Linked DNA regions of Homo sapiens. The protein of the gene in region 4 interacts with the protein of the main gene of each other region in a pairwise test. Each region holds a gene or a part of one and is shown on either strand. Other genes may lie near its edges. The genes, in order: SYNDIG1, C19orf18, SLC60A2 and MFSD6.

Evidence for each region.
Region 1: the proteins of MFSD6 (region 4) and SYNDIG1 interact in binary tests that used the Homo sapiens proteins (3 or more experiments, as listed by UniProt).
Region 2: the proteins of MFSD6 (region 4) and C19orf18 interact in binary tests that used the Homo sapiens proteins (3 or more experiments, as listed by UniProt).
Region 3: the proteins of MFSD6 (region 4) and SLC60A2 interact in binary tests that used the Homo sapiens proteins (3 or more experiments, as listed by UniProt).

The regions. Positions count from the first base shown.
Region 1 is NC_000020.11:24,660,353-24,667,570, reverse strand, and holds the end of SYNDIG1 (synapse differentiation-inducing gene protein 1), read right to left. Parts: intron 5,125-7,218; coding exon of another isoform or gene 4,972-5,124; exon of another isoform or gene 4,503-4,971; intron 2,226-4,502; coding exon 2,067-2,225; 3' UTR 955-2,066; downstream 1-954. UniProt on the Homo sapiens protein: May regulate AMPA receptor content at nascent synapses, and have a role in postsynaptic development and maturation.
Region 2 is NC_000019.10:57,970,636-57,979,776, forward strand, and holds the start of C19orf18 (uncharacterized protein C19orf18 precursor), read right to left. Parts: upstream 3,900-9,141; 5' UTR 3,798-3,899; coding exon 3,677-3,797; intron 3,569-3,676; coding exon 3,464-3,568; intron 1,870-3,463; coding exon 1,828-1,869; intron 1-1,827. Other genes in the region: ZNF606 (zinc finger protein 606), read right to left, coding at 7,666-9,141.
Region 3 is NC_000006.12:111,275,322-111,281,218, forward strand, and holds the end of SLC60A2 (sodium-dependent glucose transporter 1), read left to right. Parts: 3' UTR 1-4,684; downstream 4,685-5,897. UniProt on the Homo sapiens protein: May function as a sodium-dependent glucose transporter. Potential channels for urea in the inner medulla of kidney.
Region 4 is NC_000002.12:190,494,534-190,503,263, forward strand, and holds the end of MFSD6 (major facilitator superfamily domain-containing protein 6), read left to right. Parts: intron 1-2,905; coding exon 2,906-3,186; intron 3,187-5,298; coding exon of another isoform or gene 5,299-5,323; intron 5,324-5,481; coding exon 5,482-5,685; 3' UTR 5,686-7,781; downstream 7,782-8,730.

The DNA.
Region 1 (7,218 bases), on a different chromosome or scaffold from region 4:
ACGAAGCTCAGAGAGGTGTAGACCTTTTTTTTTTTTTTTTTTTTTTTGATGGAGTCTTGCTCTGTCTGGCCCAGGCTGGAGTGCAGTGCCACAATCTCGGCTCACTATAACCTCCGCCTCCTGGGTTCAAGTGATACTCCTGCCTCAGCCTCCCGAGTAGCTGGGATTACAGGTGCCCACCACCATGCCTGGCTAATTTGTTGCATATTTAGTAGAGACAGGGATTTCACCATGCTGGTCAGGCTGGTTTCAAATTCCTGACCTCGTGATCCACCCTCCTCGGCATCCGAAAGTGCTGGGATTACAGGTGTGAGCCACTGTGCCCTACTGAGGTGTAAACCTTTACCCAAGATCACACAGCTAGAAAGTAGCACAGCTGGATTCAAATCCAGGTTGGTTTGAACCTAAACCTATGCCCTCCATGGCCAGTGACTCTAACTCCTACAGGGGTGTTGGCTGGCTTCCTTATCTACTTCTTAGGGTTAACATCCTACAGTGTTTGTGAACCACCCAGTAGAGACAAATGCTAGATGGATCTCAAATTTGACCCGAGAAGACAGTGCTAATAATTTTCAGAATATTAAATGTTCAAGGTCAAGGAGGAGAGTTTCAGGCAGAAGGATCAAACACAGAGACCTTAGTCCAGGGCAGTGGTTCTCAACCTTGGCTTCACGTTGCAGTTACAAGGCCACATCCTGACCCATCAAGTCAGCCTGGGGCTGACCCAGGCCTCAGGAATTTGCGAAGTGCTGCCGGTGGAGCCACCGTCCTGGAGAGGGGGTCTCTGTGTCCACTGAGGGGATTAGGACGATCATATTTACTGGTGGAAATTGAAGCGGCAGGGACTTTGGTTCTCCTTGAGACCCCCCTACTATTTCAGCAGTGGAGGCCTGGGTGGCTCTGCAGTTCCTTAAACCACAAGGGGAAAGTATAAATGAAACCCAACGACAGCTATTCATCAGAAAGAAAAGTCTTAAGCGAAAAAGCTAAAAGATAATTTTTTGTTAAGTAATGAACACTCGTAAAACAGCAATGAAATGGTATTAAAATGTCTGTGATTACTTATTTCTCAGCATTCATCTGGTAACTTAAGCAGCATGAAGCAAGAGTTGCACTTTAAAAAATGACAAGAAAATAGCTATTCATTTAGTCGACAGAGTAAGGCCCATCTCATTTCCAGGATCACTAGTTTCTGCTTATGACGGGGTGAGCATCCGCCAGCGCGGTGATTGGGAGGCGCCCCTGTGTCTTTAGGCTGAGGCAGTGCCCATAGCTGCAGTGCCTCGAGTTTCCGGAGCAACCGCGGGGCTCTTTCTTGAGGAGTCTTGGGAGGGGCGGTGGCCTGCCTCCCCATCCTAGATCAGCGAGGTCCCAAGAGTGCGTATTGCTGCGGGGTAGCTGTGGAGTGTAGACACGTTCCGGAGGTGGCTTGACATCCTGAGGCTGGGGTGGTGTGAAGGGAAAGAAAGAGGGGCAGGTCCCGGGCTTTGCTGGCTCTGCTTCTCAGGGTCAGGCCAATGGGTCTGCAGAGCAGTGCAGCGGGGCTCCTGCCAGCCGTGGTGTTGCCTCTTTCTTCCCAGCCCCATTCTCGTCTTGCAGGGAAGGCGTGTGGACTCCGGGGGGCACAAAGGACTCCAGCAGGGCCACAGACAGAAGAGTGATGTGTCCCTTGTCCTCTGCCTATTGCACCGTATTCCATAAAAAATAAACACTTTTTTGGACTGTTTGTATATTGCTAATGCGGTGGCACTCTGGGCACTGGCAGGCTGCAGAGAGCCGCGTTGCCATTCATCCACCAGAATCCATCCAGAGACAGCCTTGCGGGCTGGGATCTTTGGAGCTTTCCTTTGGAAGGATTAGCAGTGCCCGTCTGTCTGGTGCTCTACACAGTGCTGTGAACATGAAATTAAAGGATAAAAACAAAATAAATCCATGGGTAGGAAATCCCAGGGCTTCGTGGCATCATTTGGCAATCATTTGTACTGTACAGCATCATGCGGTATGCCTGCTTCCTCCACGTCCACACAGACCTGGCCCCGGGTGCTCCCCCTCCATTCGCAGGAAGCTCACAGGTGGTTGTTCTTGGAGAGGTAGGCGATGAGGGCCACGGCCACGCCCACATAGACGCCAGTCCCAATGGTGATGGACAGCACTGCCAGGAATAGGGCCCGCCGGGAGCTGGTGCTGGCCTGGTGCAAGTCCCCCTTGGCCACGGCTTTGTTGGTCTGCAGAGTTGGAGAAGAAAAAGGAAGTCATTGTAAGCAAGTCGGAACAAGCAGTGAGTGGAGGGCTCATCTACGGCTCCTGATTCAGAAAAAGGCATTGTTGATGCAGAGAAGGCTGAGGGGGAAACTGTGCTCACCCCTGCTATGACCAGGGCAGTTCTTTAACTGCAAGAAACAAATGTGGGGCTGGGGCCTGCTGCTGCTCCCCCACACCGCAGGGAAGACAGACTTCTTTTCTACTTGGCCCCAAGGGAATAAGAGAAGGCTGGAAGTAGCCCAACTGAGTTCCATCAGTGTGGGGTCTGGGATCTCCAGCACGAGTACTGAGGGATGGGCTAGATAAGACTCCTCTAGTGCTGCTCTTTCTACCCAAGAATGGTGTGCTTGTTTATTTGAATAACTCGTAATTTTCTAAAGCATATTTCTATCTATCTTATTGAATCTCTGCTACCCACTGGAGGTGTGCGGAAGGCAATGACAGTTCCCATTTCCCCGAGAGAAACTCCGGCATAAGATCATGAAAACCACTGGAGGACACCTGAAACCTTCCTCCTCAGCTGCCTCACCTGCTGTGGCCATGAGTCATTCACTTCCTGACCGTCCCCACCCTGGACATGGTTGGCGTTAGTAAAATTCATCCATCAATAAAATCATTTGATACAAAACTAACACCTATATTCCTGAGTGCTCAATGACATGACCAGGTGTTGGTGTAATCAAATTCATGATTCTTGGGGTCACGAGGAGATGGAAACATGGAGGTTTTGGAGGCCACCATGGAGGGATCACCGGAGTAAAATGGCTCATTTGGCAGATGGGGTGAGATGCTACCAAAGCACTGAGCCACGGGAGCCCACGTGATGCTGAGGAGGGTTGACTCCCAAGCCACCCGCGGGCCCCCTGTGGTCAGGACTACCCTGGCAGAATGTCCTAGCTCGTTCTCATGGCCGTCTCCAGAAAGCCAGATTTCTACCGGGTCCCATTTCCACCTAAGGTCAGTGACATTACTAGGTTTTATAGGTGAGTATGGGAGTCGGCATGTCATTCACTCAAACACACCAGCTAAAACACACCAACACCTCTGCAGTGGACCAGAAAGGCTCACACTCAGAGATGGCTCATGACGTGAACCTGCATCTTCCATGGTCTCTGAGCTCTGGAAGTCTGTGTCGTGTGGGGAAGGGATGCCTGCCGCTGCTTGGCTTCCTTCTCGCTCCTCTAACTTTCGGATCTTAAAAGCTAGTTTTTATTTTTTTCCTCCCCAACTTTTTGTCTTGGAACTGAGCTTCAGAGCTCACTATGGACAATTCTGGAGGGAGCAGAGATAAAGGGATGCAAAATGGGAAGCCTCCTAGGACAATGAATGAATAAATGAATGAATGAATGAAGTCGTGGTGAGCCAAGTCTGTTTCATGCAGCAGTGCTCCCACACACGCCCACATCTTCGAACACAATTTCCTGTAATTGCCTTTCCTTAGCGCTAACTGAAAGAGTCATTGCTCATTAGGGTCATGGCTTTGTGTCCCCGCCATGATCACCAGCCTTAGTGCCATCCCCAGGGCTATGCAAAGGGGTGCAGAGAGGAAGGTGGAGCTGCTACAGCTGACTGGGCACCTGCCAGCAGCATTCATTCCCTGACCCCTGTGGGAACACCCATGCCGGGCTTCCCGAGCTCATGAGGGCTCACACATCTGAGTACCCACTTGCGGAATAGTTGCCTTCCTGCTCACTTGTAAGCTCCCCAAGGCAGAGCCCATGTCTCTCTTGTGTGTTGTGGTCTCCCTGGGGCCTGGGCTGGGCTCTGGGGGGACAGGAGGAATGCGATACTTCTCTAACTGGGGCACAGTTCCAGTCTCTCTGGTGGTGTTGAGGAGGAAGGCAGTGGCACGGGGCTGACTCTTGACCTCAGTTCTGGCCCAACTCTGCAGGTTCTGCATATAGACGCACCAGAGCTCTCATGCTCAAGCTGGTGTGTCTGCTTGAGAATCACATTTGCTCTTTATTCTCATTCTCCACGCTGGGGGACCTTGATACGCCGGTTTATATGTTTGGCTCTAACAAGAAACCTAGGGAATGTGGTGTGTTAGGGGCCTGATCGCTGGAGATATGTCAGAAACAGCAAACAGATGCAGCCTTAGCAAGCAGGCTGCCTTCAGCAACGTCACTCGGCATCTGCGTGTCATAGAAGCCAGAGTTTCTGCAGTGCCCACTCCTGCAAGGCAGAGACGTCATTTACATACACAAAACACACAACGTGGTCTAATGAAGGTGATTTACCTGATATGAACCTTTTGTCTCAGAAAATGGATAACTGTGGCTGTGAAACAGCTTGCTCATTCCTTTGGCAGGGTGCAAATGGGAAGACACGTTTCCATCCTGACAGCTGCTGGACGAAAGCTCCTGGCTCTTTGACAAGATTTTTGGTGTGCATGAGGGCAGGGCAAACTGTCTTGAGTCCAAGAGTCTCTGAGCTGAAGGCAAGGCTTTGTGTGTAGGTGCAAAAAAGTTTGTCAAGATTGTTATTTCTTGTGGCTGGTTTTCCTTCCCTGTCTTTTGCCAACAGGTTGCAAGTGAAGTTTGTGACTTTATTGGCCTTTCATTGGAAAATAAGTGCAGGCGGTTAGAAAGTGCAGGTGACTGGCGAAGCCCCAAGCAGTGCCCAGTGCCTGCACCTTGTGCCAGCGGTGGGCTGGGGGTAGGGGCTCAGCAGGACCCAAAGACACTATTTCTGCACTGTAAGGGCTCTTCAGAGAAAGCGTTTCAGCTCACAGCAGAGGCACAGCCTTAACAGCCCAGGGCACAAGGACTCATCATTGAGAACGCAGGAAGCAGCTGGGCTCCATCGGCAGGGCTGGCTGCAGGGCATCAGACGTAGCCCCCAAGGGAGATGTCCTGCAACCTGAAACCCACCAGGCACTGAGCTCCTGCACAGCCCACACTGGAACATGATTTGTGCACTGCGGTTCTGGAATTAAAAGACCTGCTTTCTCTTCCCTAGTTGCAAAGATATGTAGAAGACCCGATTTTTAAATTGAAGAGTAAAAGTAAACTTGCGCCATAGCAATGACAGCTATGGAAGCACCCCCTTCCTGTCCCTCAAGTGCAGCGCTGTTCACACTGAGGAAATAAAAGTTACACAAGCAGAGGACGGACAGCCAGAACAAACGTGCTTTAGCTGAAGTTGTCACCGTTAGAACTGAGGTCCAGCCACCTCGTACCACCGCTGGGTCACACCTCCTTAGGTTGAATGGTCACTATCAAGTGGCCAAGTCAAAGGAACTGGCTGTCAAAGGACCGAGAGCTGTTGATCCACATGTAAAGGTCATGCTGGTCATGGCTTCGTGATGAGAAATGACCAGTTTGTGGAGGGACAAAGTCAATTTGCATTCCATGGGTGGTAGTGTTTAATGCTGAAACCCACCAGCAATTCTCTCTGGTGGAACCCCCCACCCTGCCCATTGGTCACATTTTGGGGAATGGTTCTATCTGAAGGGAGTGGCTTCTTGTGAAGGTGGCAGAGAGGTCTGGGAGTGGGTTCTAGGCCCTGCTTCCTTCTGACGCTCCTGGTGGATCCAGGTCTTGCTCTAGTTGGGGGAGTGGCCAGGCTGCCCTTGCCCAGTCCCCTCGTGTCTCCCCTTCTCATGCCCACCTGAGGTCCCTGGTTTATCCAATAATGTATCTTGGCATATGCTGGCATGCTGAAGGCCAGTCCCTCCCTCCCTCCTCCCTCCCTCCTCCCTTCCTTACTTTTTATTCCCATCTCCCTCCTCCCTCCCTCCTTCCTCTCTTTTTTCCTCCCTCCCTCCTTCCTCCTTTTTTCCTCCCTCCCTCCTTCCTCCCTCTTCCCTCCCTCCCTTCTTCCTCCCTCTTCCCTCCCTCCTTCCTACTTCCTCCCTCTTTCCTCCTTCCTTCCTCCCTCCTTCCTAACTCCTCCTTCTTTCCTACCTCCTCCCTCTTTCCTCCCTCCCTCTTCCCTCGGTTTTCCCTCCCTCCTCTCTCCCTCCTTCCTCCCCCTCTCTTCCCTCCCTCCCCTTTCCTCCCTCCCTCCTTCTTTCTTCTGCTCACTTGCTCTGTAACAGAAGGTCCAGCTGGAAGCTCCATCCCAGGCTCCACATCACAAGAGACACACCCTAGGATGGTGACGGGGACCTCCCCGCCCCCACCCCCAGCAGCCTTTGCCTATTTTCTAAACAAGAGAGCAGAACAAATTTAGATGCCTCAAGGCCTGTGCCTCCACAAATGGTTTGGAGGCTGAGAAGCATTTTGAAGGACTGACGGTGTGCTGAGCCTGGGTCCCATCCACAGAAGGAAGGCATTTGCTTTTCACTCAGGCTGTGGGGGTGCAGCTGCCATGGGACCCTGCTGGCTCCATGCATGTCCAGCACTGCGGGCGGGTGACCAGCCGGTTCCTACCTGGAGACTCTGAAAGGCAAGCGGCTGACCGGCCCCCTCAGGGGTGGGGCCAGGAGGGTGCTGCTCTGTGGAGATGACCAGCCCCTGGCTGGGCAGGGAACAAAGGCCTAGGTGTTCTCCAGGGACCAGACATGGTCTTGGGTCCTATCCAGTAGAGCCCAGCTGAGGGGCAAGTGGATGGACACACAGGGCCTGTGCCAGCAGGCTGAAGCTGGGGATGCGAAGGTGAGCGTGGGCCTGAGAAGAACCTGCCAAGTGCCCAGATGAGAAAGCAAGCCGTGTACGAGAGCACAAGCCTCCTGTGACAATGTGAGTTTGGGGTGGCTGTGACATCTCTGTCTCCTATCTGCTCCTGCCAACCGCACCTTGTCCACAGGGGCAGACACTGTGGCTGACGAGTGGGGAGGAGGAGGGGAAGAGAGGAGGCCCTTCCTCCTGAGGCCAGGCCTGCTGTGTGTGCAGCCATGCCCAACCCATGCTTAGAACATGCTGTACATGGACCCTCCAGCAAGGCCAAGAGGCAACAGGAAGTGTCACAGACAATGTGGAAAAACCAAAATTCCCCTGCACTCCTGGTGGG
Region 2 (9,141 bases), on a different chromosome or scaffold from region 4:
AGTGGTGCGATCTCTGCTCACTTCAACCTCAGCCTCCCGGGTTCTCCTACCTCAGCCTCCCGAGTAGCTGGCCTCCACCATGCCCAGCTAATTTTTGTATTTTTAGTAGAGATGGGGTTTCACCATGTTGTCCAGGCTGGTCTCAAACTCCTGACCTCAGGTGATCTACCCACCTCAGCCCCCCAAAGTGTTGGGATTACAGGCATGAGCCTGTACTGCACCCGGACCATCAACTTTATTAGATAAACAATTTTGTCCCGTCTCTATCCTACCTACAACTGGGACCTGAAGCTCAGGGGTGGCAGAGGTCTCAGTGACCTTCTAGCACCAGCACACAAAACGAGCTAGTGTCAAAAGAAGGACCAGTGTGCAGGCCTTTGATACCCCAGCCAGGACTCAAGCTCTGTGCTTTGGTGATGGTGGTGTCAATGGGCAGGTGAAACAGTCATAGCTGAGCTTTAGGAAGATTGATAATGTGTTTGGCGTGGATGGATGTATTCATCACGTTTTTTATTTTCTGTATTTCCTGATACTTTGACATCTTGGGGCCTTAACTGACCCTTGAAGAGACTGCCCTCCCAGGTCCAGCCAATTCCTGAAGATAGTAAACCCTGGCCTGCAAGTGCACCTTTCATGTGCAAGCCGACACACCCAAAGCCTACACCCCAACAATCTCTATGGAGCCCTCATGCTCCAGGCCACCATCCCCTGCCCCCAACCACCCCAGGGCCAGGTCCCAGACAACCAGGGACATACCCCATGCCCCACAGCCACCAAATCACTCAAGCTGATCCCAAGCCCGCCTTCCCTACCTGCCTTCCTGTAAAAACCAGAATAAAGTTGTTTTTTTTAAAAAAGACAGCCTCGCTCTGTTGCCCAGGCTAGAGTGCAGCGACCCAATCTCAGCTCACTGCAACCTCCACCTCCCAGGTTCATGCGATTCTCCCGCCTCAGCCTCCCAAATAGCTGGGATTACAGGTGCCCACCACCACTCCTGGCTAATTTTTGTATTTTTAGTAGAGATGGGGTTTCACCATGTTAGCCAAGCTGGTCTCGAACTCGTGACCTCAAGTGATTCATCCACCTCGGCCTTCCTAAGTGCTGGGATTACAGGGATGAGCCACCGCACCCGGCCCAGAATAAAGGCTTTTGCTCACACTTTCCTGGCTCCCTTTGCCTTCTGATAGACCCTGGTGCTTCCTTGTGTGGACTCCTGCTTCTAGGGACCCGTGAGTATCAGGCTTCTTCCTTCATGACAGTCATTTCTGTGTCTGCATGTCTCACTCAGCATATGTGATTAAATAAAATGCTGGCTACATGTGAAAGCAGTGGAGATGGGTAGGTGGTGGGGGAGCTGACTCAGAAGCCGCCCTGTTGCAGGCACTTAGCAAATGTGCAGAGGAGAAGGAAGGATGCTCTGGGGCGGGAGCAGCAGCAGGACACAAGGTGCCTTCTGCTTTGGAGGACTCTGAAGCGAGAGGTGTTGAGGAGGTTCCAGGACAAGCCACAGTGGGGAGAGTTGCTAGAAAGGCTGCTGACAGGGCCGCTGTGTGTGCCCATGCATTTTGTGTGTTCCACAAAGAGATCTCAGACACAGCCTGTGCTCTACTCACTACAACATCAGCCCGTGGAGTTGAGCCACCTTCTCACCTGCCCCAAGCGGTGTCACTGCGCATCCCCCTCCAGAGGGGGCACCTTGTCTAACACACATGAAGGCACCACGTGTGCAGGCTCCTTGGTGACCAGCCAGCACCCTCTGGAGCCACACATCACGACAGCTTCAGGAATGTTGCGGGTCCACCCGCCCTCCCAGATCCCTTGGCTTACCTTTATTCCTCAGGAATTTCATGGGGTTCGTAGGGGATGCAGCTAAAAGGCCATCAAAGGGGATCAAAAAGAAGAGACTTTAAGATGGTTTAAGATGAACTTGGGAAAACAAGGAAATAACTTAGCATTAGAGAAGGACGCCGAACACACAGCTTCCAAATATCTAAGATGGGATGTGTTAATACATTCCTCCCAATGCCTGGCAGCAATGTGTGGGTTAATTTGCAGAAGCCTGGTGAGCCTGCTGTTCTTTTTGCACCTGGTGCTTCCTGTCATGAAGAATGACCTTTAGGAACAGGATACTTTTGGTTTCTGGTCTCCTTTTGCAGTCATACAAGTTGGGAAATCTCTGCCCAAATTAAGGACCTGGAGAGACTTAGAGTTGAAGGGGCTACGACCTCATTAGAAGGTCAGCAAGGGTTGGGCACAGTGGCTCATGCCTGTAATCCCAGCGAGGAAGGCAGATCACGAGGTCAGGAGTTCGAGACCAGCCTGACCAACATGGTGAAACCCCGTCTCTACTGAAAATACAAAAATTAGCTGGGCATGGTGGCACGCGCCTGTAGTCCCAGCTACTCAGGAGGCTGAGGCAGGAGAATTGCTTGAACCCGGCGGTGGAGGTTGTGGTGAGCCGAGATTGCGCCACTGCACTCCAGCTGGGTGACAGAGTGAGACTCCGTCTCAAAAAAAAAAAAAAAAAAAAAAAAAAAAAAAAAAAAAAAAGGATCAGAGAGCCAGGCAGAGAGGCCAGGGAACCAACAATAGTGTCCTTTCCTCGGACACAAATTACATGCAAATGTATCACACAGACAGCATTTCCCTTGCATGGAATGGAGATTATTTACAAGCATCATATATCTCCACAAAGGGTTGCTGAGCTTCAAAGATTGTCGGGGTTGGTTTTGCTGTTATAAGATAAACAAACATCCTCTAGTACTCAAATTAGAAGGGAACCATAGAAAATGCTTATAAAGAATTCTCGGCTGGGCATGGTGGCTCATGCCTGTAATCCCAGCACTTTGAGAGGCCGAGGCGGGCGGATCATGAGGTCAGGAGATCAAGACCATCCTGGCTAACACAGTGAAACCCTGTCTCTACTAAAAATACAAAAAATTAGCTTGGCGTGGTGGCGGGTGCCTGTAGTCCCAGCTACTTGGGAGGCTGAGGCAGGAGAATGGTGTGAACCCAGGAGGTGGAGCTTGCAGTGAGCCGAGATCGCGCCACTGCACTCCAGCCTGGGCGACAGAGCAAGACTCTGTCTCAAAAAAAAAAAAAAGAAAAAAAAGAATTCTGTACACTCACAAACCTTCTGTGTCTAGACTTGCATGCTCTACTGCCAAATGTGCACCAAATTCAAGTCAGACAGGCATACCTGTGTAATCTGGATGGGATCAAGGTTTTTGTGTGCGCTTATTAAAGTGAAATGAAAAAGAGAAGAAAGTGGCAATCCCTAAAGAGAAAGCAGTTAACAGAGAGTGAAGAGCATAAGATCTAATTTCCAAGCAAATGTTTATCTAATTATACTCTATTTTATGGACCTTTCTACCAGCAAGCACACAGTACACATTCACATGGCAGATAAGAGGACTCCAGGCTACGATTCTCACTCCACTGAATGAGGAATTCAATGACTCACCCGTGGATCTCGAGGCAGCCCCTTGAATCCCAGGCAACTGGGTTTTATGAAAGAACACTTTGGGCTCTTTGGTGATGTTTCTGGGTGGTTGTGACCGTTTACTGCCTTGAAAAGAAAACTTTTTGCGGTGAAATGTAATTACCTTCTTTTTATCTCCCCTGAAACAGCTTTTCAATTCTCCCTGAGTCACATAAAACCAGTGGTTGAAGCTACCTGGTAAGCCTGTTATGTTTCCAGTGGGATGGAGTCCATCTGCATACGGCAAGCATAAATGAAGTTGGCATTCCATTAAAAACAAAAACAAAATGAGGAAACCACTCTGAACCTTGTCCATCACTCTCAAATTATCAGTATTTTATCCCGTAGATGAAAGGAAATACTTAGCTACAGTCCAGCATCTGTCCTCTATTTATCTGAGGAATCAAGAAGTTCTACTCCCTTCAGAATGTTTGGGCAGTGACTTGGAGCCACCAGTGTGAGGTCAGTCCTTGCTGTGATAATGGAGTTCCTTCATGGAACCATGCTGACCAATGGGGAGACTACAGTGTAAGAGGGCAGTGCTTGGAGGTGCAGGCATGATGAGACCAGGTCCCTGCCTGCAGTGTGCAGATTAGTGAGGAGGCAGAAAGAAATCAATTACAGTCAGCCCTCCGCATGCATAGTTCCCCATCCGTGATTTCCAACAACCTCACTTGGAAAATGTTCAGGAAAAAAGGAATGGGCACGGTGGCTCACGCCTATGATCCCAACACTTTAGGAGGTCAAGGTGGGCAGATCGCTTGAGGCCAGGAGTTCAAGACCAGCCTGGCCAACACAGTGAAAGCCCATCTCTACTAAAAATACAAAAATTTGCTGGGCGTGGTGGTGCACACCTGTAGTTCAAGCTACTTGGGAGGCTGAGGCATGAGAATCACTTGAACCCAGGAGGTGGAGGTTGCAGTGAGCTGAGATCATGCCACTGCACTCCAGCCTGGGCGACAGAGCAAGACTCTGTCTCAAAAAAATAAAACAACAAACACAAAAACAAAAACTAGCCAGGCATGGTGGCGTGTACCTGTAGTCCCAGATACTCGGGAGGCTGAGGCAGGAAGATCACTTGAGCCCAGAAGGCAGAGGTAGCAGTGAGCCAAAATCGTACCACTGCACAAAGAAAGAAAGAAAAGAAAGTGGAAGGAAAGCAGTCACCCTTAGAAGGGAGGCAATGTGCACAGGGGAGACCCACAGCAGGAAGGTAAAGGGGGACTCCTGATGACTGAAAGTGGGCCCTAGGCTTCAGAGATGGGAGGAATAGAAGACGGGCTCAAAAAAGGCAATGAACTATGTCATGTATGAGGGAGACAGAGGGGACCTGGGAGTGCTGGATGTTAGGGACCACTGAAATCAATACTGTCCAGGCTGTGCATGATAGGTGAGAGGAAGGGAATACTTCCAGGAAGAAGCAGAAGTCTGGGACTTTCTTTTGACTCGTGATGTGACCTGACCAACAGGAGGCCCTTTTTTTTTTTTTTTTTTTTTTTTGAGATGGAGTCTTGCCCTGTCACCCACACTGGAGTGCAGTGGCACAATCTTGGCTCACTGCAACCTCCACCTCCTGGGTTCAAACGATTCTCCTGCCTCAGCCTCTGGAACCGCTGGGATTACAGGCATCTGCCACCACACCCAGCTAATTTTTGTATTTTTAGTAGAGATGGGCTTTCACCATGTTGGCGGCCAGGCCAGTCTCGAACTCCTGATCTCATGATTCACCCACCTTGGCCTCCCAAAGTGCTGGGGTGACAGGAGTGAGCCACTGTGCCCTGCCAGGAGGCCCTTTAAGACATTAAAAAAACTCTTATCTGTTTAAACAGAGATGGGATCTTGCTACGTTGCAAGGCTGGCCTTGAACTCCTCAGCTCAAGCAATCCTCCTGTCCCTCCCAAAATGCTGGCATGAGCCTCGGTGCCCGGCCTAGAAATTTTTTCAAGATAATAATCTTAGTAATAAGGTTATAAGTTACCAGGATGCTTGTGGTATATTGCATATGACTTATGAAATCCTTTGGAATCTCTAAATCAGATAATTTGGATTCACTCTGGCTATTAGAATACAATATCCACATCCTACTGGTAGTATGATTCTGGATATATTATGCTGCTTTCTCCAAGATGAGATAATACTGCTAACTTCATTCTCTCCAAGGGCCTTTGCACAAATCATGTAAAAAAAAAATCCATCAATAACTAACTTGCCCCTGCCACATTTATCAGGTGACCACTAATGTGTCAGGCCTTGAAAGGACTACAATCAAATGTTACACACCTAAGTGAGCCCAAGCTAGAAGAGTCAGAAGGTGAAAATAACAGCCTCCCAATGACATCACTAGGCCATCATTTCTCAACCACTGGGAAGCCATGGGCCCTTTAAAAATTAGATGAGCTTTATGAGCCCAAGTTCCACTCAATACCCTTGAAGCCTATCCAGGAAGGATCCTTGGCCCCCAGTTTTAGAAATACTTATGAACTGGAGAGAAGCCACCCAAGTCTTCTGATCCATCTTTCCCCTTTTCCCCTGTGAACACTGAGACTTCATTACTCTAGGTGGACTGGCTAGCTCTCTTCCCTTCTGAATCCTGCTCCTTCAAGTAAGCCTTTCATCTGCAGAAGATTTCAAAAAAATAAAAGACCGAATTCAAGGTAAACCTTGGGTAATGGTGCTCTGAAGTGCAGTGGTGTCTAGTTATGGAAAGGAACAAACACCCCTGCCCTCTGCTCTGTAAGTGGCATTCTAAACCCACCAAGGGACTTGCCCAGTCCTCCAGCAAGTCCTCCAGGCCCTGCTGCCCTGTTATCCTTGGGGTTGCAGGCAGCAAAGTTCTAGGGAACTCAGGTCCCAGAAAATGCAGTGATTCTGAATGTCCAACACAGACTTCATATTCCAAAGGGATACTAGTTCTCATGTTACTATAAATCCTTCGAGACAGAGAAACCAGGTAACTTTATTTCTCATTGTTTAGGATTTTCTTTTTATTATCAAATCTCTGCTATAGAAACACTGAAGAAAATGGGAAAAAAAATCACTGGAGAGGCAGCATAAAATGGTGGCTGAAAACAAGAACTCTGGAGCCAATCTCAGCTCTACTCCCTTACTAGTTGTGCCCCTTAGGTAGGATCCTTCAACATCTCTGCTTCAGCTTAGCCATTTGTAAAACTGGGGTAACAGTACCTATCTCAGAGTAAAGGGGACTAAACAAGTTAACACTTGGAAAGCATTTAAAAGAAAGCCCAGCACATAAGTGTTATATGTATTTGTAAAACTTTTTAAAAATCTCAACTGGGTTAACTTTTCCATGGATCTTTCAGGTCCTTACCCATATACATTTTTTTAGATGTGTTACAGTAAGTATGTATATACAATTCTGTATCCTTTTTATTCCTTCATGTTATGTATACTGATGCAGTGTCCATAATTATAATTTATAGTGATTGCCTAAAACAAATTACAAACTAATTGCCCAACAATGCAGTGATGAGTAACAATGGACGCTGACACACTGGGCTAAGGATCACTTTCTGTCCAGCAACATCAGTCTCACACTCCTAGGCAATAACTTTTCTACCGTTAGTCATCTCATTCATTAATTTTCTCTAAGGAGGTTAATCAACAGTAAATACCCCATTCAATACTATTATTTTTCTTACATTCAGATTTAGCACTTCATATTCTACTCCTGGGCACCCAGACCCTCCCCTTATAACAACAAAATCTGTATTTCTACAATTATGCACAAAATGTTATTGTAGAGTTTTCCATCCAGTACTCCAGCTTGATGCAAAACAGTGTATTTCCAGTCAAAAACTTTTCTCTGCATAAGGTTTTTCCCTTAGCAATTCACACCAATCTACAATTGGTGAGAGCTCTTGCTAAAAGATGCCTCATTCCCCACAGTCATGGTCCTCAAGTATGAATTACTGGTAGACCATAAGGGGAGTTTAGAGTTTCCTTCATTGTTAATTATCTGATTTTGAGTAAGGGCTAAATAACTGCTGAAAGCTTTTCCCTATTCTTTTCCTTCATGGGGTTTCTTCTAAGATGATATTTTCTAGTAAATAATGTGGGAGAAGTCTTACTGAACTCTTAATGAAAAATGTCCCCTCTTGATTATGTTTATAGGGTTTTCCTCAATGTGTTGTCAAATGTACAAGAAACGAAAAACTCGCATAAATTCAATTCAGTTTCTCTTCACTGTGATTTCTCTGGTGTTGAAGTAGGGCTGAGTGACCACTAAAGGCTTTTCCACATTCACTGCATATAAAGCGTTTCTCTCCACTATGCATTCTCTGATGAATAATAAGGGAAGAATTCTTACAAAATGCTTTTTCACAATGATTACATTTGTAGGGCTTTTCTCCAGTATGGTTTCTTAGGTGTACAATAAGGGATGAACTCTCATTAAATGCTTTCCCACATTCATTACACCTGTATGGTTTCTCTCCAGTATGAGTTCTCCGGTGTGCAATGAGGTGAGAACTACAGTTAAAGGATCTTTCACACTGATTACATTTATAGGGTTTCTCACCAGTGTGAATTCTCCGATGAGCAACAAGGTGACAGCTCTGACTGAAGGATTTTCCACATTTATTGCATTCATAGGGTTTTTCTCCAGTATGAGTCCTTTGATGTCTAACAAGGTGAGCCATCTGGCTACAGGATTTTCCACATTTATTACATTCATAGGGCTTAATTCCAGAATGAATTATCTCATGTTTAGTGAGGGCTGAGCGTTCTCTGAATGCTTTGCCACATTCCTGACAGTTATATGGTTTCTCTCCCGTGTGAGTTCTCTGATGGGCAATAAGATGGGAGCTCCAGCTGAAGGATTTTCCACATTCAGTACATTTATATGGTTTTGCTCCAGAATGAGTTCTTTCATGTTTACTAAGGGCTGAGTAGTCCCTAAAAGCTTTTTCACATTCATCACATTTAAAGGGTTTCTCTCCAGTATGCATTCTCATATGGGCAATAAGATGGGAGCTCCAGCTGAATGATTTCCCACATTCAGTACATTCAAAAGGTTTCTCTCCTGTATGAGTCCTCTGATGTCCAATAAGATGAGAGTTCCAGTTGAAAGATTTCCCACACTCATTACAAACATAAGGTTTTTCTCCTGTATGAATTCTCTTATGTACAATAAGATGAGAATTCCAGCTGAAGGCTTTTCCACATTTATTACATTCATAGGGTTTTATTCCAGTGTGAGTCCGTTCATGTTTCGTAAGGGCTGAGCGATTCCTAAAAACTTTTCCACATTTATCACATTCATAGGGTTTTTCTCCAGTATGAGTTTTCTTATGTTGAATAAGGTAAGAGCTCCAGATGAAAGACGTCCCACATTCATTGTAGTCATAGGGTTTCTCTGCAGTGTAAGTGCTTGTATGTTGAGTAAGGAAAGAGTCATACCCAAAGACTTTCTCCCATTCATTGTATTTATACGCTTTCTCTACAGTACCAATTTTTTGATGTTCCATAAAGGATGAGAAATAAAAGATATTCTCATATTCTTTGTAATTATACTGGTTTTCTCCAACATGAAGCCTTGGGTGTTCATTAAATGATGGGCTCTGGTTAAAGATTTGATGGCATTCCTTATATTCATAGAGTTTTTCTCCTGTGTGAATTCCTTTATGATCACCAAAATGTAT
Region 3 (5,897 bases), on a different chromosome or scaffold from region 4:
ATGAGTTAGTTAACCAGTGTCCTGGAGGAATGTTTTGAAGTTAGATGACATGAGTAGCATAAGGGGCTGGCTTTTAGCTCAGAACAACTTTTTTTTTTTTTTTTTTAATATGGAGTCTTGCTCTGTCACCCAGGCTGGAGTGCAATGGCATGATCTTGGCTCACTGCAACCTCCAGCTCCTGGGTTTAAGTGATTCTCCTGCCCCAGCCTCCCGAGTAGCTGGGATTACAGGTGTGCACCACCACGCCCAGCTAATTTTTGTATTTTTAGTAAAAACAGGGTTTCACAATGTTGGTCAGGCTGGTCTTGAACTGCTGACCTTGTGATCCACCCACCTCGGCCTCCCAAAGTGCTGCGATTACAGGTGTGAGCCACTGTGCCCGGTCAGCTCAGAACAACTTGTTGAGATTATACGATGCTTTTCCAATAAAAATTATTTAATTTTGATAAAATATACTTAATGGAAAAATGTATCTTTTAACATTTTAAATTGTACAGTTCAGTGGCATTAAGTATATTCACATTGTCTTACAACCATCACTTCCACTCATCCACAGAACGTTTTTTACCTTGCAAAACTGAAACTCTGTGCTGTTAAACAGTAACTGCCATTCTACGCCCCCATCCCAGCCCTTGTCAACCACCATTCTACTTTGTCTATGAATTTGACTGCTCAGAGTACTTCATATAAGTGGGATCATACAGTTTTTGTCCTTTCATTACTAGCTTCTTTCCCTTAACATAATGTCTTCAAGGATCATCCTTGTTGTAGCATGTGTTAGAATTTCTTTCCTTTTTAAGTCTATGATACACCATTGTATATACATACTATATTTTGTTTATTCATCTGTCAGTGGACATTTGTGTTGCTTCTACATTTTGGCTGTTGTTAATACGCTGCTGTGAATGTGGGTGTACAACTGTGTCTTTGAGATCTTGTTTTCAGTTCTTTTGAGATATATACCCATAAGTGGAATTGCTGGATCTTATGGTAATTCTATTTTTAATATTTTGTTGTGTTTGTGTTTTTTGTCTTAGATTTTTTTCTTAATCAAGTTTTTCCAGAAGAGAGTAGCTTTAGGAAGAGAATAAACACATACTTTTAAGGTATTATCTCAGACTTTAGGCGCATTATGATCATATCAGTAGCACCCATGTACTGAATAAGTGAACTCAAAGAAAAGTTATGTTGGGCAACTACCTCAAAGTTTTGTTATCTCTGCTTGCAATTTTTGTTCAGTCATTGCACAAGTGCTTGAGGGCTTACTGCATGTGAGGCTCTGTAGACTAAGTATTAATGAACTTTCTTTTTTGTCCTTGCAGTAGCAGGTACAGCTTTGATCTCAGTTTTCTGCCAAATGAATGGTTCTGTGTTTTGTGCTCATTCGTTTACAGAGATCCCTCTGAACCACCTTGGAACCAGAAGGTGTGTGGTCTGAGAACGATAAATGGGCTGCTCTCTGCCTCTCTCACAGCAGTTCTGCCCCTCCTTGGGACCACTCGTTTTCTGCATTCCTGGCCCATCTTCTATATATCTCTGGTCCAGATTCCAGAGGAAACCTGTTTGACTTGAATAGATGCCATTGCCCTTATTGGGCCTTGCCTCAGGAGTTCCTCTGTGTATCTCTGGTCCAGATTCCGGAGGAAACCTGTTTGACTTGAGTAGATGCCATTGCCCTTATTGGGCCTTGCCTCAGGAGTTGCTGGTTAGCCTATGAAGGGGTTCCCTTTGGGTTGATGACATTGCTCCCATCCAGAAAGTGGCTACTTCTACCCTCCTACTCCCACCACTCTGCATGCAGGAGCTGTTATCATCAAAAGGGAATGTCCACTGTCTGCTCTGTACCAGAGAAGTGCTAGGCTTCATAAATATTGGTAATCGATACCTGAATGGGATGAAAATTGGCAGGTCCTGGGATGGATGGCCTGGTTCATCTGCATCAGAACTGGAAAAACAAAATCACACCAAATTGCAGACTTTTTTGGAAGAGCGTGTTAGACAAGGTTTGTGGATTGTTTGATTTTTACCAAGAAAGAAAGCTTTCTCCTAAGAGGGTAAGATTTCTACTTGAGTGAGCTCTAAGAGGAGTCCCAGTTTGCAAGAGATATTATTACAGTTCTCATCTGTGCGGACCAGAAAGTTTTCCAAATTCATGCATTTCAGTTATCTAACAGATATTTACTGAGCATTTACCATGTTCAGTAACCAGGGCCCTGGGAATATAATAGGAGAAGGCAGATGAGATCCTTGCCTTCACCAAGCTTATGTTTTTCTATTTTAAGTAAAATTTGCCATGACAAAATTTCTATCAGCGGAAGAGCCAGTAACTCTTATTGTAATAGGTTTTACCCAGTTTTAGAAAAGGAAAGTAGCTAAACTCTTGGTTCCTTGGTGTGTGTTTTTGTTTGTTCATTTCTAGTACTTGTCTATGTCTTTGGGGTAATTTTTGATTTAGAATTTTGTAGAAATTACTCGGCACAGTGTAGTTGAGGTGAATATAGGCAAGAAGGCTTAGGAAGCCTACAACAAAGGAATCTGACACCAACTTTTGAGATTTATTCAGTCCAGCCAAGAGAATATATTTATGGTCAAACTAGATCTTGGATTACAGCTCCAAAGACCCTTGGGCTGACAGAGCAGGTTCTCATTTCTCAGCTCTTTCCCTTATCACTTGCAGTGAACTCTGCCCCCAGGAGCAGAGTATCCAGTTCTGTGTCCAAGCACTCTATGAATCTTTACCCTTGTTGAAGAAATACTCAGAGACAGAAGCATTTAGAAAAGGAAAAGTTTACCTGCAAAGAGAGCAAGAGAATGACTGGCTTGCCTAATAAAAAACGTAAGTATTTGAAGGAAAAAATTAAAAACTGCCAAGGTTTCTGAGTTTGCATTAGACTGTTCACGGTGAAAAACAGTAACTGCCTCATGTAATTATTGTATTCATAAAGGTTATGGCAAATCTTCAGATGTAGTACAGGAAAAACCAAGGATAAAATTTCTTAGGGAGTCCAGGTTTATGGGAAACATTCAAGGTTTTATTGTTTTTTAGATCATCAACAGTTAGATGACCCTATCATTTTTGTTTTGTCTCAGGGTGCAACGTCTTTCTTTTCTGATGGTGATTGATATAGTTTGGCTGTGTCCCCACCCAAATCTCATCTTGAATTCCCATGTGTTGTTGGAGGGACCTGGTGGGAGGTAACTAAATCATGGGGGCAAGTCTTTCCCGTGCTGTTCTTGTGATAGTGAGGAAGTCTCACGAGATCTTTTGGTTATTATAAGAGGGAGTTTTCCTGCACAAGCCCTCATTTTGCCTGCTGCCATCTATATAAGATGTGATTTGCTGCTCCTTGCCTTCCGCCATGATTGTGAAGCCTCCCCAGCCATGTGGAACTGTAAGTCCAATAAACCTCTTTTGTAAATTACCTAATCTCAGGTCTGTCTTTATCAACAGCATGAAAACAGACTAATAGAATGATATAGGAAGTTCTTAGTCTTACTGAAGCAAGGGAAAGTGACATTTTGCTTCTACACCCTCCAGAATTCATAAGCTCCAGAAGGAAAGAGGACCCAAGGGAAAAACGTGATTGCAAAATGTGTTCTTGTCCTCTGCCCAAGTGATTAACCTTTGCTCCAGTGGTTTTCAAACCTGGCTGCTGTTAGAATCACCTGGCAGTGTTTAAAAATGACTGATGCCCAGCATTTTAACTTAAATACCAATTTGGTCTGGAGTGGAGCCTGAGTATGGATATTTAAAAAAGTAACTCCTCCTCCCCAATCCCCCGTAATTGTAATGTGCAGCCAAGATTGAGAACCACTGCTTTGATCAGTGCACAAAACTGGATCCTCTACTAATGACCGTGGTTTTTTCTTAGGCTTACTTACAGATTGATTAAGTTATGCCACTTTTGTAGATCCTTGAAATTCTGTGCACTTTCTTTCTTTCTTTTTTTTTTTTTTGAGACAGAGTCTCGCTCTATTGCCCAGGCTGGAGTGCAGTGGCGCTATCTCAGCTCACTGCAAACTTCACCTCCCGGGTTCACGCCATTCTCCTGAGTAGCTGGGACTACAGGCGCCCACCACTGTGCCCAGCTAATTTTTTGTATTTCTAGTAGAGACGGGGTTTCACCACGTTAGCCAGGATGGTCTTGATCTCTTGACCTCGTGATCCGCCCACCTCGGCCTCCCAAAGTGCTGAGATTACAGGCATGAGCCACCGCGCCTAGCCTGTGCACTTTCTTAAAGGAAAACTGGAGAGGAAGAGATCTCATGTTTTCTATTCACTCCACTGCTGCTTGGTCCAGTGCAGGAAATATTGCTGTTATTTGAAGTCCTTCCTAAAACAAAAGCTCAGATCTTTTGGAGGTTGCCCTTCTAGGCAGGTTTTCACCAGTCAATTTTGATTTGGGGGGCTTAACAGAGTAGGAATGATCTTGCAGGTTTATTACATCTGAATTTAAGACTACTCACCTAGGCTGGGCGTGGTGGCTCACACCTGTAATCTCAGTGCTTTGGGAGGCCAAGGCGGGAGGATACCTTGAGCCGAGGAGTTCAACACTGCAGTGAGCCATGATCACACCACTGCATGAGTGAGACTCCATCTCAAACAAAAAAAATAGACTACTCACTGTTTACATAGCTTTGTACCATATAAAAACTTGTTTGAATAAAATATTGATAACAATAGTGATGTTGGTTTAAGATTCATGTTTCAGTTGTTTCACTGATTTTTGAATTGATACATAATAGCTATGCATAATTATGGGTTCCCTGTGATAATTCGATACATGCATACAGTGTGTAATGAGCAAATCAGGGTAGTTGGGATATCCATCACCTCAAATGTTTATCATTTCTTTGTGTTGGGAACATTTCACATCTTCTCCTGTAGCTATTTTGAAATATACAATAAACTAGTGTTAACTGTAGTCACTCTACTGTGCTATCAAACACTAGAACTTATTCCTTCTGTCTAACTGTATTTTTGTATTTGCTAACCAACCTGCTGCCCTCTGCTCTGTCCCCTACCCTTCCCAGCCTCTGGTAATTATTATTCTACTCACTACCTCCATGAGATTAATTTTTTAGCTCCCACATCTAAGTGAGAACATGGAATATTTGTCTTTCTGTTAAGTGAAATAACTCCCTTAACATAGTGTCCTTCAGTTTCATCCGTGTTGCTGCAGATGATAGGATTTCATTTTATTATGGCTGAATAATATTTCATAGTGTATATACCACACTTTCTTTATCCATTCATCCGTTGAAGAACACTTAGGTTGATTCCATATGTGGTCATTGTGAATTGCTGCAATAAACATGGGAGTGCAGCTGTCTCTCTGATACACCAATCTCCTTTCCTTTGGATATACACCCAGCAGTGGAATTGCTGTATCATATGGTAGTTCTATTTTTAGTTTTTTGAGGAATCTCCATACTGTTTTATGTGGTGGCTGTACTAATTTACATTTCTCCAACAGTGTAGGAGCATTCCACTTTCTCCACATCCTGGCCAGCATCTCTTTATTTTCTGTTCTTTTGATTATAGCCATTCTAATGGGGGTGAGGTGATATCTCGTGGTTTTGATTGCATTTTACCGATGATGAGTGATGTCAGGCATTTTCTTTTTTCTTTTTTTTTTTTTGTTTTTTGTTTTATAATCAGTTTCTGTTTATCCAGAACATTTTTCATTTACATGTTGGCCACTAGTATGTCTTCTTTTGACAAATGTTTATTCAGCCGGCCGTGGTGGCTCGCGCCTGTAATCCAGGCATTTTGGGAGGCTGAGGCGGGTGTATCGCCTAAGGTCAGAGATTTGAGACCAGCCTGGCCAACGTAGTGAAACCCCATCTCTACTAAAAATAAAAAAAATCAGCTGGGTGTGGTGGTGGTCGCCTG
Region 4 (8,730 bases):
AGGACATAACAAAAAAAGAAAACTACAGACCAATATCCCTGATGAACATCAATGCAAAAATCCTTAACAAAATACTAGCTAATCGAATCCAACAGCATGTCAAAAAGATAATCCACCATGATCAACTGGGTTTCATACCAGGGATGCAGGAATGGTTTAACATATGCAAGCCAATAAATGTCTTTCACCACATAAACAGAATTAAAAACAAAAATCACATGATCATCTCAGTAGACGCAGAAAAAGCATTTGATGAAATCCAGCATCCCTTTATGATTAAAACCCTTAGCAAAATCAGCATACAAGAGACATAACACAGTGAAATAAAAGCCATTTGTGATAAACCCACAGCCAACATAATACTGAACAGGGAGAAGTTGGAAGCATTCCCTCTGAAAATTGGAACAAGACAAGGATGCCCACTCTCACCACTTCTATTCAACATAGTACTGGAAGTCCTAGCCAGAGCAGTCAGACAAGAGAAGGAAATAAAGGGCATCCAAATAGGTAAAGAGGAAGTCAAACTGTCGCTGTTTGCTGATGATAAGATTGTATACCTAGAAAACCCTAAAGACTCCTCCTAAAAGCTCTTAGAACTGATAAATGAATTCAGCAAAGTTTCAGGATACAAAATTAATGTACACAAATCAGTAGCTCTGCTGTACACCAACAGTGACCAAGATGAGAATCAAATCAAGAACCCAACACCTTTTATAATAGCTGCAAAAAATAAAGTATTTAGGAATACACCTAACCAAGGAGCTGAAAGACCTCTACAAGGAAAACTACAAAACACTGCTGAAAGAAATCATACATGACATACACAAATGGAAACATATCCCATGCTCATGGATGGGTAGAATCAATATTGTGAAAATGACCATACTGCTAAAAGCAATCTACAAATTCAATGCAATTCCCATCAAATACCACCATCATTCTTCACAGAACTAGAAAAAACAATCCTAAATTTCATATGGAGCCAAAAAAGAGCCTGCATAGCCAAAGTGAGACTAAGCAAAAAGAACAAATCTGGAGGCATCACACTACCTGATTTCAAACTATACTATAAGGCCATAGTCACCAAAACAGCATGGTACTGGTATAAAAACTGGCCCATGGACCAATGAAACAGAATAGAAAACCCATAAATAAAGCCAAATACAGCCAACTGATATTTGACAAAGCAAACAGAAACATAAAGGGGGAAAGGATACTCTATTCAACAAATGGTGCTGGGATAATTGGCAAGCCACATGTAGGAGAATGAAACTGGATCCTCATTTCTCACCGTATAAAAAAATCAACTCAAGATGGATCAAGGACTTAAATCTAAGACCTGAAACTTAAAATTCTAGAAGATAACATCAGAAAAACCCTTCTAGACATTGGCTTAGGCAGAGATTTCGTGACCAAGAACCCAAAAGCAAATGCAACAAAAACAAAGATAAATAGATGGGACTTAATTAAACTAAAGAGCTTTTGCACAGCAAAAGGAACAGTCAGCAGAGTAAACAGACAACCCACAGAGTGGGAGAAAATCTTCAGTCTATATATCCGACAAAGGACTAATATCCAGAATCTATGACGAACTCAAACAAATTAGCAAGAAAAAAAAAAACACCAAAGAGTGGACTAAGGACATGCATAAACAATTCTCAAGCAAAGATACACAAATGGCCAACAAACATGAAACAATGGTCAACATCACTAGTGATCAGGGAAATGCAAATCAAAACCACAATGTGATACCACCTTACTCCCACAAGAATGGCCATTATCAAATAATCAAAAAATAATTGATGTTGGTGTGGATGTAGTGAAAAGGAAACACTTCTACACTGCTGGTAGGAATGTAAGCTGTACAAACACTATGGAAAACAGTGTGGAGATTTCTTAAGAACTAAAAGTAGAACTACCATTTGATCCAGCAATCCCACTACTGGGTATCTACCCAGAGGAAAAGAAGTCATTATATGAAAAAGATACTTGTACATGCATGTTTATAGCATCACAATTGCAAAAATGTGGAACCAGCCCAAATGCCCATCAATCAATGAGTGGATAAAGAAACTGTAGTGTGTGTATGTATGTATATGTGTGTATATATATGTATATGTGTATATGTGTGTGTATGTGTGTGTGTATATACACACACACACATATACATACATACACAATGGAATACTACTCAGCCATAAAAAGGAATGAATTAATGGCATTCACAGCAACCTGGATGGAACTGGAGACCATATTCTAAGTGAAGCAACTCAAGAATGGAAAACCAAACATCGTATATTCTCACTCATAAGTGGGAGCTAGGCTATGAGGATGCAAAGGCATAAGAATGATATGATGGACTTTGGGGACTCAGGGGAAAGGGTGGGAAAGGGGTGAGGGATACAAGACTACAAATTGGGTTCATTGTATACTGCTTGGGTGATGGTTGCACCAAAATCTCACAAATCACCATTAGAGAACTTACGTAACCAAATACCACCTGTTCCCCAAAAACCTGTGGGAATAAAACATTTTTTAAAAAATAACTATCACGTGGCTTTTCCTGTTTTGACGTCTTTTTAATCATAATCCTGTAAATGGGCCTAAGGCAACACTCATTATAACCTATGCCCCACTGATGTTCTAAGTTAAATGAAAAATATATTTCTTAAATATATATGCTAATGTCTATTAAGGCCTATAAAGAGACCCAAAGATAAACATCATGTTCATTGATTCAGTACTTACACCAAGTAATGAAGTCATTGGTAACCAGCAATTTATTAATATTATCAAGCACTCTGGAATGGGTATATGGGATTCTTGGTTTATTTATTTATTTTTACCTTTGTTCAAATATGTAGAAAATGCTGAAAAAATAGTTTAAACATTCTTTTCTCTCCAGACAAGACAATGTTGGCAGAAAGAATTCCTGTTCCCTCCAGTCCCGTTCCTATAGCAACCATCGACTTGGTACAGCAACAGACAGAAGATGTCATGCCACGCATTGAGCCCAGACTTCCACCCAAGAAAACTAAGCACCAGGAAGAACAGGAAGATGTGAACAAACCAGCCTGGGGAGTCAGCTCTTCTCCCTGGGTGACCTTTGTCTATGCACTCTACCAAATTAAAGAGATGATGCAACTCACAAGAGACAACCGTGCTTCTGAGATACAGCCTTTACAGGTACAGTTCCTTTGCTGGGCTAGCAATATTACCTGTCACTCAAGATACCTTAACTGGGCTCAGTTTTAATTACTCACTTTTCATTCAACAAGATTTATTGAAAGTCTGGTGGGGGAAATAGACATGCAAACAATTTCAGTACTCTGTGAGCACTGAGTTAAAGAGGGTGTATACAAGGTCCCATAGAGAGAATATTCTGCCTTATGGAGTTCAGGAAAACTTCAGAGGTTATGATTCTTTCACTTCTTGAAAGAAATAAAATAAATTAATCCATTCTTTCATTGTATATTTGTTTTAAATTTCAGTATTGATGGTTGTCTCTGTAATTCCAAAATTCTAGTGGGGGCATTATATTATAGGACCACAATAAATATTTGTTGAATTAATTAATCTGAGCCACTGTATGGGTCTGATAGGACACCTAACTCAGTGGAATTATGGTTATGCAGGTGGCCTCACCTGAAAAATAAGTCTAAAAGTGTGATTTTTCTTGTCCCCAGAGGAGTGATCTTTCCTGAGTAAAGTTAAAGCATGTTGATAAAAGTGTGGATAATTGTACAGGTGTATCCCGACTTTGGAAAATGAGTGTAACTTCTATAAACAATTTAGCCAAAGAAATAGGCTCAGTTCCCCCATCTCATGATAATCACTCCCTTTTATTTGATAAGTCACGTCAGCTTTGTCTGGAGTAGCTTCAGAGGACACATAAAAATAAAGGGGAAAGATTTAAAAATAAGGGTCATTTGAGTAATTCCCCTTTCAGAAAATTTGTTGAACTGTTAATTAATCTCACTTTGTAAGCTAACATAAAATCTTTGTGAAATTTTAACCAAATCTGGTTCTTTACTGATAACCATATGCATGCTAGTCCATGCATGATCCTATTTATTAATTTATCAAGATAATAAACTCACATCATTACTCTGCTCAGTCAAGAACCAGATATTGTGGTGGGAGATGCATATGGAGGATTTTAATACCTTAAAGCAAGAAGACTAAACAGGAGAAAGGATGATTTTAATATCTGCTGCTTGAGTAGCAATATTTTCATTACTTTGTGTACTCATCCTCATTTTCACAGAAGCCACATAAAATTTTTGATGTGGCGCTTTTTTTCTGGTATGTTAGGATTAATAAATTTTTTTCTGGGCTGGGCATGGTGGCTTATGCCTGTAATCCAAGCACTTTGGGAGGCCGAGGTGGGTGGATCACGAGGTCAGGAGTTCAAGACCAGCCTGGCCAAGATGGTGAAACCCCGTCTCTACTAAAAATATAAAAATTAGCTGGGCATGGTGGCGGGTGCCTGTAATCCCAGCTACTATGGAAGGCTGAGGCAGAGAATTGCTTGAACCCAGCAGGAGGAGGTTGCAGTGAGCCAAGGTCACGCCACTGCACTCCGGCCTAGGCGACAGAGTGAGACTCCGTCTCAAAATTATAATAACAATAATAAATAAATAAATAAAATGTTTCTGGTATGTTAGGATTAATAAAAACTGGCAGGTATGCTGTAGTTATTCTTAGAAGTCATTATACTAAGTTTCTTTTTCTTTCATTGTAGAATCACAGAAATGAACATTTTTATTTGGGTGTTCAGCCAAAAAGTGATGGGTACTAATTTGGGGGAGAATCCATTTAAATTTTTTTTTATTTGTACAACCAATATGGCATTTATGGAAATTGCTGCTGGTGATGTTCTACTCATGGTTATTTACAGTTGGTTACACAAGTGCTTGTTTACATTCACTTCTTTATGTGGATGTTCTGTCTTATCTAACTTTTGGTGCACATTTTGAAATACCAAATATATATCAGGACTCTTAATTACAGGACATTCTTTCCCAGCTCTGCCTCCAAGGATAAGAACCCCTTATTTACCTCCTGTTAGACAAAGTGTCTTCTGGCTCTTGGATTCTGTGGTCTTAGCAAGCGGCCTGAGTTTCAGTTATTCCATAGTGCTTGCCCAGCGACTTGCCACATGGCTTGGGGGGCTCAGTAAATATTTGCTGATGTAAACTGTTTACCAAGTACTAACAGACATTTTGGTAGTAATGTTCCTTTTTCCACAAGACACGTCTGCTTATAGTGTTTGTGTTTTTCATGCGGCTCTGGCAGTTGCACATAGGAAAGGAGATGAAAGGTAAGACATTCTATCCTTATTCCTCTATTACTTGGTCCCTGAAATGGGCACTTCCGGATGATCTCCCCATGTTTCCTGTCTTACTTGAAAGCATATATAAAAAGTTGGATTTATTTGCTATCACTGATCATGGGGCATCTCCTGTTTTTTACCTCCAGGGGACCAATGAGAATAGGGAAAATTCTCCTGCTGGTAGAGCCCAGCCTGTCCCATGTGAGACTCACTCTGACCCATCTAGAAACCAGCCATCCCCTGACGCAGCAGCATCTCAGACGCAGACCAGCCCCGCTCACCCCAGTGTGGACCCGTGCACAGAGGAGAGTGAAGAGCAGCAGGCTCAGCTGGCCGCGGGAGGACACTGAGGGCATCCTGCTCATCTCACACCCTGCATGGAATCAGGCTCCTCAGCCAGGACACAGGGTGAGGCCCCCCAGCCAGGATATGCCTCCCCTGGAGGAGCACAGCACTGCATATGCTTCTAAATATCTAAACTCATTAACATGGAAACACACACACAGGAGCTACAGTACATATTGGCAGGAAAAGGTAAACTTTCGTAATCTCATTGGAATTACAACAGGGAAATGGAGTTCAATGAGGACTTTCAGTTCTTTGCTTGGTTAGGTTAAGGATGATAGAATTTCTCTGCCAGTGCAGTAAGAGTTGAAACCGGCAGTTACACTAAGTAAGTGGAGGGAATGAAAGTGTTTCGAGGTGAATGTGGATATAATTTCCCTCTTCTGATTATTTATTCTTATTTGGTTCCTAACACAAACTGGGAAGAGATAGAATTCATCTATACTTTCTTTTTTCTTGGAGAGAACCGTTTAAAAAATTACAAGATATATTTAAAAAGTAACCAGATAAAAGTAGCACATGTGCTTTTGTTAAAAATAAAGTTAAAAGTTAAAGTTAAAAAATGAAGTTAAAAGTTTCATCAGAAACTTTACATATCTTTAGCAAATATATTTTTATATGTGTATGGCATATAATGGAAATAATTCTTTGAGCAACAGAAGCTATTATTAACTACTGCAAGCTAAGCCGAGCTTAAAAATGCCTTTTGTTTTAAATGGGCTTTGAGAAAAAAAACAGAAACAAGCGATTATTTCAAATCAACCAACCAACTCAGTATCCTGTGTTTTGATAGACAAGAGTTTACTAAATATATTGATACTGTAAATAGCCTCTCTCGCTATTTACTATCTTATAGTAATTCAGGCTCTAATTAGCTGAGGGAATGAAACACACAAAAATCACTGAATTCCTAAGAGTTCCTTAAATAAGCAGTACTAGTTACAAATCACAGTATAAGATTTAAGTGCCTGGGGGAAGGATACAATTTTTAGAAATTACATATTGGGTCAGTTTTGTTTTGTTTTTGGTGAGGAAAAGGTGGTAAATAGGAAACCATGAATGGGAAGGATGGCAATAAGTAGCAACTATACTTTCCAATGACTAAAGAAAGAAAATCTCAGTATATTCGTTCTCATGAAGACACAGTCAGACACTGGACAATGTAATGTATGCAACTGCAAACGTTACAACTGCAGCCAGAACAATGGCTGGGTGGATCGCACGTAAAGCTTGCCACTAAAAATCAAAGCAGAGGTTAACAGGAAACCTGGGGGGAGTGTGGAAAAGGGAAAACTGTTTTAGCTGAATAAAGGTGAATTATATAATTTATAATAGCTGTGGATGAGCACAGGAGAGAGAGGAAAGAAAAGAACAGTCGAAATGAGCAACTCACCTTACCCTCTGACCCTGATTAGACAGGATCAATTGTAAAGTGAGGGCTTCTCCATGACACCATAGTTCTGCCCAATACTGCATTTGGGATAAGAAATTCTACACTTGGATGTCTCGCTTCACAATAAAACACAGCTTAAAAATAAAATAACTGAAAGAAATAGAATTCAGCAAATAGTTATTTTTTGCACTTGAACTGAAACGTACTGTACTGTAAATTATGACTCATTTTAAGTGACCTTTAAAATCAGATGTATTTATTATGCTTGTGTAATTATAGAAATAAAGAAATGGGTGACAGGCTTAACCTCACCTATGAATGTACAGTATGTGGATTTGTGAAACTGACTGTAGGAAGTCAAAAACTTGTACTGTATCTTGTGTTTACAGTTCTGATTTATTCCTTTGAAAAGCCTGCTGTTTTGGAAATGCACAGTTGACATGTTGAAATAAAAATGAATACCATTTTTAAATGTTTCTTAAATGATAAAGATGTGACCAAACAAAAGTCCTATACTCTAATGAATGAGACCAAATTCAACATGCCTTTGTTATGGAACATTTACTGTGACAGCAGAATCGATAATGCAGTCATTTCCAGCCTTGTGAGCTGACACCTTCATGGGTTTGTGGACTTTGTGACTTTTTCTTCCTGTCCCCAAAGTGCCATATGCTACCTTAAAAAATATTAAAGTGAATTCAAATTACATTTTGATTTGAGATTTTGTAACCCCTCTTGAGATCCCTCAACACACACAGGGGTGTCACAGAGCCCAGGCTGGTAATCACTGCCTTAATGACTTACTTCCTACTCTTTCTCCTATGGTTGTAGAAACAGTAAATTACCGAGTGCTGAGCTTGTGTGGATCCAAAGTGGTTAACTGCTAATTATTGAACTATTCCTCAAGTTTTAGGAATAGATTATAATACATACATTGTCCAGCAGGCAGTAAACCTCATGAAAAGTGTTAAGGAATTCACAGGAAGAGCAACCCTGCTTTACTGGCTTATTAATCCTGCCATGGGTCACATGAAGTGGATAGCTGGCTAATAGCTTCCCTCTAATTGGCAATTCCTTCCAGTACTGCTGAGGTACTGAGACCATTACTTAGGCAATATTCCTCTCTGCCAATTTGGAGTTCAGCAGGGAATCTAGGAAAAGGGAACCACATCCGTGGATATTGGGTGCTTGTAGTGTGCTGATGAGATTATCATTTTGCCCTTAACAAAAACTGGAGGTGTTCCTATCACTATCCCCATTTTAAACAAGAGAATTCTGAAGCTAACAGTTTAAGTTATGAGATCAAGGTCACAAAGCCAGGATTCAAACTCAAATCTTCCTAATGTCAAAGCCCTGGTCCGCTTAGCACCTTACCCCACCCCAGGAGGCAGGGAGGCCATTCCCTGCATCTGTTATGGCAGAGGAAGCCATAAAGCAGCCCAGCCTGAACCATTACCATACATGCCTGATATGTGTATGTGTGTGGTTGTATTTCCATTTAGGATTTCTAGATATTCCTAGATTCCTAGAAATGCTTCAAATTCCTGATGCTTTGTGAAATGTAGGTACACCAGACCCTTTACACTCTGCAGGTGAGTTGGCTGGACTGATAACTGCACAGGAAACCCAGAGGTTGGTAGGGACTCTGGCCAGGGCC